Regions from separate parts of the Homo sapiens genome. Here region 1 is linked to region 2. Evidence: fine-mapped expression QTL. A gene starts in region 2. The other region holds a variant in brackets. All regions are shown on one strand. Distances are from middle to middle.

Region 1 (5,382 bases), 270 kb before region 2:
TGTGCAGGCAGGATTCACTGGCTTAAATTGTCAGCCCTGCTGAAGTCAGCTCCAGGTGCTCCCAGAGAGAAGACAAGGGAGTGATCTGCCCTTGGTGACTCCTGTCGTGTAACTACTGCACCTCCTATACCCCAACCCTGGCACTAAGTACCCTTAGGCAATTCACTGGCCTTTCCTGTGTCAAAACCTATTTGTAATTCACGGATGTGGCAATGCTGAATGTGTCTCAAACAAAGGAATGAATTTATAATGGTGGAGGCATCAGGAAACCTTTGGGGGTGGATATTAAGAGGTCACAAGAGCCATTTGATTAGCCCTAAAATATTGTCATCAATTCTGCTTCCTATAGTGTTTTTTCTCTAACTTCTTAAAATGTGCAAGTCATTGTACCACTTAAACCTAAACCAATGTCTGAAAGACCGTTGACACTCCTGGAATATTTGTTGAATAAATGAATGAGTGAATGAATGAATACAATCCTCAGCTCAGGCATTATCTTTTCCATGGTCTCCTTGCTGGGCTACCAGACTGGGATAAGGGTGGCCATTACTCTGTGCTCCTTTGGCGTCCTGAAGCAGATTGTATCCCAGCAATAAGCCAGCTATGGAGAGGATCTCTTCATGCTTGTCTTCTTCAGCAGCCATTTGCTTCTCCAGGGCAGAGACTGTGCTATACATCTTCATTTCCCTAGCACCTAGCACCTGGCCCATACATAGTAGGTCCCTAAGAAATGTGACTGGGACTGGGCGTGGTGGCATACATCTATAGTCCTGCTACTGGGGCTGAGGTGGAGGATCACTTGAGCCCAGGAGTTCAAGACTACAGTGAGGCATGATCGCACCACTGCACTCCAGGCTGGGAGACAGAGCAAGATTCTGTCTCTAATAATGATAATGATAATAATAGTAATAAATTAATTAAAGAAAAAGAAATGTAACTGAGCCTGAACTAGCGGCAACACAGGCTGCTCGGTCTTCCCTGAATATGTTGCCTCCTGAAAGTTCTTTTTCCTGTTTGTATTATTGCTCACACTTTTTATGCAGCTTCCTAAAGATCTGAAGCATCTAGAAAACCTATAATAAGAAAATCCTAGGAAATCTACTAGTCAGCCTTCTCCATCCCTACACTATACCTTTTCTCCCTGGAGGGCCTCAGATTCCTCTTGCTCCCTTTTTTTGGACCCCCACAGCAGGGATGGCAGAATGAGCACTCTGTGGTGGATGTCAGAGCAGCTGATCCTAGACTATTGTCACCAGCTTCCTACATGAGGCACCCAGGGAAATTGGAACTTGAGGTGAGAGCAGCTAAATATTCTCCTGTTGGGACTTCTTGCACAGTTGTTGAGGTGCCCTAAAAAAGGAGACACTGCCACCAGGACTTTATCATGTCCAAAGAAAGGTGATGTCAGTTCTAACCAATCTCTATGACTAGAGTGGGCACTACAGGAAGAACTCAAATAATGGTGGGGGAACAGGAGGTCCAATTTTTTTTTTTTTTTTTTGAGATAGGTTGATACAGTGTCTTGTTCTGTTGCCTAGGCTGGAGTGCAGTGGCATGATTTCAGTTCACTGTAGCCTTGACCTCCTGGGCTCAAATGATTCCCCCACCTCGGCCTTCTGAGTAGCTGGAACTACAGGTGTGCACCACCATGCTTGGCTAATTTTGTTTACATTTTGTAGAGACAAAGTCTCCCTATGTTGCCTGGGCTGGTCTTGAACTCTTGGACCCAAGTGATCTTCCCAGCTTGGCCTTCCAAAGTGCTGGGATTACAGGTGTGAGCCATAGTGCTCGGCCAAGGAGGTCCAAACTTTTGTGGGTAAAAGTTTATACGGGATTGGAGCCTAATGATGTTGTCAGACTAACTACACTGATTCATGTTCTGGTGTTGAGTGGAGCCAAGACAAGGCATAGTAGCTGATCAAGACTGGCTCAGAGCAGTTATGCTTGGGAGAGGTGGACAACCCAACTGATGATGTCCAAGAAAGAGGCCTTTCCTGGAGGCTCTGTGGGGAACCTTGGTTAAAGGAGATTATCAACCAAATTCCTACTTTCCCCTTTGACCAAGGGTGGTGACTGGACCAGTCCAGGTTGAAGCAAGTGAGGTGCCTA[G/C]GGTGCAAAATTTAAGGAGGTACTCACTCTCAGGTGCAGGTCTGCAATTGTCCAACCCTGAGAATAATTGCCCCCTTAAATGTTGAGCCATAGGGGGCTCATTTGTGCCCCTTAGTCCCAGCCTCGTTTGGAGATAATTTTCTACTCTGTGTACTCATGAGCATGGGTAGGGTTAGTAGAAAAATATCAGGTGAAGCTCTGGGCCTGCCTGGCTCTTTGGGGAGATGGAGAATGATGCCTGCAACAGACTAGACTCTTCCTTAGTGTCAGCTTTCATCAGCCTTTCCTTCTTCTCAATTAGCCACTGTGAGCTGAGAGCTGAACTAAAAGTTGTCTGATACCAAAGTTGGGAATGCGACCATTCGCTGTTTTGTACTGATACACTAACACCTTTTATAATCCAGGTGTTCCTCATGACCTGGGTTAATCCATGTGTCCAGAAGCAAGCACTGTTACCGGCCCTGGAATCAGGAGAGGCAATGTGGGAAGACAACCATCTTAGGAACATCATGATTCTGACCAGGAAGATTTTCCAAGGGATGAGGGTTGGAGTAGAGGCAGAGAAGAACAGAGCATTTTTGTGGCATAACATCAAAAAGTAAGAAATGTAGAAGGCCACTTCCCTCGGGTCCTAAGAAGGCCTTACACTGCTCACCTGGTCTTCGTCCCCTCCCTTTTACACCCTGAAATCTCATCAGGGCCCACACTCTGAGCCAAACTTGCAAAGTAAATGCCTGCCTCTTTCCTGGAACCCCTAAGCCACTGGTTTCCAAGGCTGCCCTGGTGGGTCTCCCCATTTCACAGAGAGGAAAACTTGGGGCTGCCAGAAGCTGACCATCATTTGCTGAGAATTTTTATCTGGAAAAGCAGTTCATGGGGACTTTCATAATCAGTGGAAAAATGTTGTCCCTTTGCACATGATAAGTTCAAAACACTGCAGTATCTGCTTTCTGAATATTCTCCCTCTGTCTCCCCTCAGCACTTTGCAATTCCACATAAAGGCCCTCAGAAAAGGATTACTTACGTATCTGCAGGATAACCCTGAAAATATACTCCGCTGGCTGTTTTCATTGTTAAAACATGCTTAAATGAAAAAAAAAAAAAAAAAGAACTACAAAAGTAAAAATGAGTTTGAAGAGGTTTTGAAGGTATTAGAAATAAAAAGGCAAGCTTAAACTAAGGAATTGTATTTGTGGTTTCATTTCTTTCCACAAGGATTCCAGCTGTAGAGCTCTGTGTCTATCTAATAACTGACCTTCTCTTACACTGAGCAGAGAAGTTCACCAGCACTGATTTATTAAGAGGGTTTCTGCAAGGAGAATTCGCCCTCCAACACTTTTGCCCGGAGGGGATGAGAAGAATTTTTTTTAAACCCCAAACATGAAGCTCTTGGGTCTTCCAAATGAAATTATCTATGTTTTTATTAACTGGGCCCCTGAGTTAAAAAGTTGGTTTTGATAAGGGTGAATAAATGAAAGAGAAAACTGCTGACATAATATTTTGGTTTCCAAACCCACTTCCACATTCTACTGTCCCTCTCAGGCCCATACATGACTGTGGTTTCTCTATTTACACCAGAATCCTGGAGAGAAAGGTGCAGTTAATCCTGCTTTATGGTAAAATTCATCTCTAAACTTTAATAAAATGATCATAGTGACTCTTTTAAATGCTTTGGTATAAGTTTTGATTTTTCTAGACATGGAGTACTATATGATTTATAAATAATGCAGGCTTGTATTTTCCTTTTATTTTTATTTTTATTTTTATTTTTTTTGAGCAGAGTCTCACTCTGTCGCCCAGGCTGGAGTGTAGTGGTGCCGTCTTGGCTCACTGCAACCTCCACCTCCGGGGTTCAAGCAATTCTCCCACCTCAGCCTCCCAAGTGCCTGGGGCTACAGGCGCACACCACCACACCCAGCTAATTTTTGCATTCTTAGTAGGGACGGGGTTTCACCATGTGGGCCAGGCTGGTCTTGAACTCCTGACCTCAAGTAATCCACCCGCCTTGGCCTCCCAAAGTTCTGGGATTACAGGCGTGAGCCACTGCACCCAGCCTCTTTTCCATTCTTACAAGAGGAAAAGTAGATATTATGATGTCCAAGGTGTTCTATAGATTTAGGAGTAAAAAGATTCTAAATTTCTTATTTCTTACAAAGTTGAAAATTCTTCCTTTATTAATAGAAATGGGAAGGAAAGTGAGATTCATGCACTGTCTGGGCCAATCCCAGTGCCCTTTCTTTCTCTCTCTCTTTCTCTCTTTCTTTCATTTTTAGAGATGGGGTCTCACTGCATTGCCCAGGCTGGAGTGAAGTGGCTGTTCACAGGCACAATCATAGCTCTCTGTAGCCTCAAACTCCTGAGCTCAAGTTATATTCCCACGTCAGCCTCCCACGTAGCTGGAACTACAGTACAGGTATGTGCCACCACACTCGGCCAATTCCTTTCTTTTAGCACCCACCCAAACTGGAAAGCATGCATTTAAGCTGGTGTTAGAATATACTTTTCTTGGGCAATAATCCTCCTTGAAAAATCTAATGAACACTCTGACTCCTCCTTTTAACCATGGACCCCAGGTTAAAAACCCCCAAGAGAAAAAGTATGCTCACTTTGTATTAAACTTCAAGCTATGCTCTTTTACAGGTAAAGAAAAGCAGGCACGAAGACATGAATCTCAATCCCTTGAAGGCTGACCCTTGGCCTGGCACTCCAACCAGCAAACATCAGTCAGTGGTTCTCAGATGTGGTGTGCCTGAGAATGTCTGGGGAATAGATTAAAACGTAGGTCTCCAGGTATTACCTTGGAGATTATATAGGTCAAGGTGGGGCCTTATTTCTGTGGTGCTATGACAGAATATGTATTTTTAAGCAAAACTCCCCAGAGATTTTGATGCTAGTGATCCATAGTCCACACTTCTACGTGGTCATCCTATGGTCATGGAAATTTTATAAATAAATTAATTAAGTTGATAACGTAAATGAAAAAAATATATAAATACATTCATATGTCTCTGCTGTCCATGCTCTAAAGGAGCTGTGATTTCCTTTCCCCTCTTCTATTTTAAGATAAAAAGTATTTAGTAATCTGTCCTAAAGTGATCAAGCCTTTAGACATTGGCTATAGTGACTTTTCCAAAACAGGATGCCCACAATGGATGGAAAGAAAACATCTGTGTTCACAGTAACATAACACCCATCTGAACAGTCTATGGCATTATGGTCTCCAGGACCCATGATAAGATTAGGGTTTCCTGACCTGTGGCTAGTTTTGCAAGA
Region 2 (5,382 bases):
TTTGTATTTAAAGCATTGCCACAAAATAGATAGCTTACTTATTTTACAAATAGCAACACAAAAAGGGTCTTCTGTGTCTTTAAGTCTGTTTAGCATATCTGAAAGTGCTTCTTCCTCACACTTAGATATTTAAGGCAATTGCCCCCCAGTTTATTACCTTATCTCAATTGTATAATTTTCTTAAATAGAATTCAGAGAAATAGTCATAGATTTAAATTTTTAAACACTAATTAAGCATTGGTTGATTCCCATAATACAGCTGGTAGTCAAAGTGGACAAGATAATGAATTGACTGAGATCACTGTTCCATCTTCATCCAAGAAAGCTGCCTCTAAAAAAAAAAAAGACCTTAAATTGCTGTAGAAATCCAATTTGTAAGAAGCAAAAGAAGCATATAGATGGGAAACACCAGCCAGGATCACATTAATTTTGTGACTAACTGCATTGCTTAGAAGAAGAAGAAGGAGAAGGAGAAGGAGAAGAAAGAAAAGATGACAAAAATAATAAGTCCACTCAAATCCCAATTTTAATCCAACAACATAACCAGAAGAAAATGAACTACAAATACAAAGTTCACATCTTAGTGATCTAGTGAACACTACACACCGACAAAATAATTTTTAGCTTAGTAAGAAGTAAACTCCAATGACAAGAAAATATTATAGGATTGTGATACCTCATTGCTAAAAAGTAGATTATAGTAAGAAATTGGGAGTCTAGGAACTTGCCATCATGGAAACTCCATGATTGATTGGTTTTGAATGTGCAGGTGTGGGAAACTGACAAATCATTGTAACAAAAATCTTAAACTTACTAGAATTGAAAATCTATGCAGGAAAAGTCTCTGTGACAAACTACCATTCATTTAGCCACCTATTCAAATAAAAGCTGTGACATAACAGAGATCTAGAAATAAGGGCATGGTTTCCAATTTTTTGTTGGAATGTTCTAATAAACTATCTTCTCAGGTATCAACTATATAAGGTCACGACTGACCGCTAATTGACAGGCAATTTATCGGCACCAGCAATTTACATTAAAAATAGTGGGCTTGGAGATATTTTCAAATATGTTTACTATGAGTTAAGTTGAAAAATAAAAACCACTATAATCAGTAAGGATTTAAAAATAAGAGATCCATATAAAATGCTATAAGCAAAGGAAAATGAGAAACATTTCTGGGGAGACACAAGTGAGTTTTATTATACTTCTTCTTTTAAGTTTTAGAACTAAAGTAATAGTTGATATTCAACCCATAGAATCATCCTTCAGGGGCATACACATCTAGGTTTGAATGCGGAAAACTGTTTTATTGTTTTTTTTTAATTTTTAGGTTTCTTTTTCAAGAACTTTCTTATTAAAACTTAAATACTTATTGAAGTGATTCATGAAACCTCACAGAAAGGGGAATTCATGCTTGACACATTACTTAACATGCTCCATAGCTTCCCCACTGTAGTTCATATGCTTCTGAACATATTTTACCTGGGAAATAATAGTCTTATTCACACACACACACACACACACACACACACACACATCCTTCCACATAAAATGCTATAAGTCCCAGGAAACTGACAAAAGCAACATTAAAATTTTGTGCAAAATCTAAACTCCATTTCTGAATTCCATCTATGAAAATACAACATTGGTTCTATTTAACTAAGTGCAAAGTTTTCTCTCTGTTTAATATGCATAATAAACATCATCCTTACCATTATCTGTAGAATAAAAGCAGCAACGTGTTGCTTCCTGCAGTCACCAAATCAAGTTTTTTCTTCCTTTCTTTCTAGTAACTTCTGTTTCACCAGCAAGATTAGGAAGAAAATAAGTCTTGAGTATTTGCCTCAGTATTTCAGACCAGAAGATAGTGAAACTAGCTTTTAGTAAAAAGAACAGGTCTGGTATTTTACAATTACTTCTGCAACCCAGAGGTACCTCCTAGACTCTGGTACCTCCCTCGTTCTCTAAGTTTCTTTTAGTAATGAGACTAATTTTTCCAGTAGTCTTGAACTCCCTAGATTTAACTGACATGGAAAATGTGACTAAAAATTTGTGGAACTGTCTAGCCTCCAACCCTACACAGAATCAACTTTGTTGTAAATGTTGAAGAACACCTCGCAAGCAGCTACATGCTCAGTTTATACTCCTGCGCTACGCAGCAGAGAACACCAAATAACAGTGCGCCATCTAGTTAGCAAGCTGCAATCTCCATGCTAGAAGGGGGGACACTTTCAAACCCTGGGAGTTAAGAACTTGTCAGGGTTCAGCTGCTCTAAAGGTCCAATTGTTTGTTTAAATAAAAAAAAATATCGCTACTGAGATAATCCACATCTAGTGGATATGGGAAAATTTAGGTTATAATGGCACTACAAACTTTTACATCTAACTTTGATTTACAAGATAAAAGCAAGTTTTAAATTAAAAGGGCTTTCTGTTAATAGAGCTTATTATTCTGAAGACGGGAATGATTTTCTTCGAAAGTTGTCCCTGGGTGCATGCCTATTATCTTTGCTTTTCCCCTTCCACTAATGAGCATTTATCTAAAGAGCCTGTTAATCCTCTGATGTGTGCTTCTGGTCAGAGGTAACAGTTTGAATAAAACCACTAATCACTGATCACTAAATCACTGATCATTAATCACACTTTCCAGTGCCCATGACTGGGCCATTTTTTTTCCTTTAAGTCTATGCATCACAAACAAGAAGTTCAACATTTTCGATGCACATATATTGTGTGGAGGTTACACTATTTCATCTCTAGATGTGAATAAATACTAAATCCTGCCACAGACTTGGGGAAGGATGTCAATTAGACCCCAGACAGGAGTTTCACAAATGCCTACCCTACAGCATGGCTTTCGCTTTGAAGAAAGTAGATCTAATTATAAGAAAACATGTGTTCTTCAAGAAATTCCCACATATTTGCAATATAAACTTTTCTTTATTTAGTTTTCACCAACTCCAAATCAGGGACCACTCCAATCCCCTCTCTCCCTCTATCCAAAACTCTGTTAATACTTTTTTAAATTTAATTTCTGCTGCACACCTCCCTCACGCCCCCACCCCCCCACCCCCCACACCGAGGGTTCTTTTTACTTTGATCCCTTGCAACAAGTCATACACAGGGTCTTTATTTCAACTGCCAGATACGGAGGTTCTGACTCAGTTCAATGACTTACGTATTCGACTTCCTCTTTCAACATAGAAACTTAAGGTTAAGAGCTAGAAACTAACGCACGCAGCAATTTATTGTATGGAAGTTTAGGTTCAACGACTCACATTCCCTCACTTTGGAAATGAAACGTTTAGTCTTGATCCTTTCAGCTAAACCTGATTTTGTCAGCATCCCTCTTCTGCTAAAGGGCAGGCACTACGTAAAGTGAAATACTTTGTTTGCAGTGGGTGTATTGCTTTCCTAAGTCACCACCACGAGGACAGAGTATTATCATAACGCTTGCAAACATTTCCTGATTTGCCTTTTCTATCAGGACTAAGCATTTTCGCCCTAGAGGAGAAGGCTTACTGGTGCCTTTCTTAAATAATACAAAAGGGCGGATTGCGCGCTGATCAGGTACAGTGGTCCCCTCAGACCCCAGAAGCTTTTACCCACACTCCAGGGACCGTGCTCGCCCCAGGGAAAGCTGTAAAAAGGCGGGGGCGGGGCTAGAGTGATAACGGTGTAGACGGGGGAGTGGTGGAGAGGGAGGGGCTGGGAAGAGAGGGCAATAAAGATGCCCAGGGAGCCGGCGATTGCACGAGTGTGTTGTGGGGAGGGTAGGGGGATGCAAAGCAGAGTTGCTTTGTCAGCATTCTAAGCTCCTGAACCCTTGAGGAGCTCAAGCCGTTAATCAAACACTTACTGGCCTGCAGAATGACGTAATGGACCTGTATCCAGTCTTTATTCCTTGACACATGTCAGAGAAGGAGGGAAAAATAAAAATCAAACACATTCTGCAGACTGACAACGAAATATACAAGTAGCCCGCTCCAGTCCCCGGCCTTGAGCAAGCATCAAGTGGGGGCGGCACCGGTCCAGGGAAAGTTGGGGATGGGGGTGAGAGTGTGGACAAGGTCTAGGGCTTTATCTACCAGACGCCCCTTAAAAATAAATCTATGGCAAAGAAGAAGCGGGATGCAGCTGCTGAGAGAAAACATCTCCTTGGTTCCTTCCTTCGCATCTTGCCCCTCTAAGAACTTCGTGAAAAGTTCAAGTGATTCTGCCGAGAATCTGCCGCAGGGGGAGACTCCGCCGCCAGGTCTTGGGAATTGCCTGGGCGCCGCCAAAGCTCGAGCCGGAGCTGTCATTTGGGGCAGCGGCCGGGAAGAGGTAACGATGCCAGCAAGAAAGCAGCGGAGGCAGGAGGCGGCCGGAGGAGTGGACTGGAGCGGACGGAGCCTCGCCGCTCTCCAGCCCGGAGCGCCTGGAGCGAAAGCCAAGCGCCCTCCGAGGGCGACCTCCCCTCCCCGGGCGCGCGCCCACCCGCTGCAGCCGGCAGCCCGGCGGGAGAGGTGGCAGCTGCAGCTCCGCACCGGGGAGAGCGAGCCCCCTGCGCGCGCGCCCACCCGCCCCCTAGGTGACCCGGCGTCCTCGCCGCGCCCGCTGGAAGTTTGCAAACTTTCTCCGGGGGTTCCGCCGCCACGCTGGGAAGCTGGGGACGCGGGGGGAGGTTCCTGGCTCGCCGTCTCCGCTGCCGCTTGACCGCACTTCTGGAGGGCTCCGCACCTTGCCAGGTCTCTGGAGGCAAACACACACCCCCGATTCATAACTGGTCCCCGCGTCAGGGGACTCGCGCGCTCCCACACACGCACGCACGCCGGGCGGACTCGGCGCCGGCTCCACGTTAGCATCCCTCCAGGCGCGCGGCGCGGCGGCCACCGAGCGCTCCGGCACTCACGCGGCGCGGGGTCTCTAGGGTGGCCTCAGGACACAGCCGAATTCCACAGTCTACCAGCACTCGGGGCCGGACTTCCCTCTGGTCCGCCAAAATGTTTACAAACACAGATCACCCTCCAGAAAAAAATGCATCGCATCTTCCCTACTCCTTGCCCTGTGACCTGCCCACTGGACCAAGTAACCTCGCGGCTGCTGCCGAGAACCAACCCCTGCAAACAAGTACACTCCCGAGATGGCTCCTGCGGCAAGTGCAACAAAAGTGGCTAAATGCAAAAGCCCCAGAAGTGGCCGAGCCGTATTTTTAGGAACTTACCAAACAAGTGTGGAGAAGGCAAGAGCGGAGCCCGGGTGAAGGGACCACGTTGGACTGAGCAAAGATTACAATACATTCTATTTAGAGTGCATTACATCACCCCCCCGGTGACGTCACGTGGGATTCCTGAACTTCTAAATCATTGCGGTCCGCTGGGGAGGGACGGAGCGAGG

The links. PIP is the estimated chance that this variant, and not a neighbour inherited with it, causes the effect.
Region 1: its variant is fine-mapped to the expression of CREB5 in whole blood (INTERVAL, PIP 0.94).

What each region holds. Positions count from the first base shown.
Region 1 is chr7:28,676,888-28,682,269 of GRCh38, reverse strand. The region is part of intron 5 of CREB5 (cAMP responsive element binding protein 5); the gene reads right to left. Among named protein-coding and RNA genes, the nearest start is that of CREB5, 270 kb to the right of the region's middle. The variant G/C (reference allele first, on the strand shown) is at 2,110.
Region 2 is chr7:28,409,251-28,414,632 of GRCh38, reverse strand. CREB5 (cAMP responsive element binding protein 5) reads right to left here and starts at 2,115. Exons shown (of 11, transcript NM_182898.4): 1 at 1,716-2,115. The coding sequence starts at 1,718. RefSeq lists an enhancer at 2,029-2,118.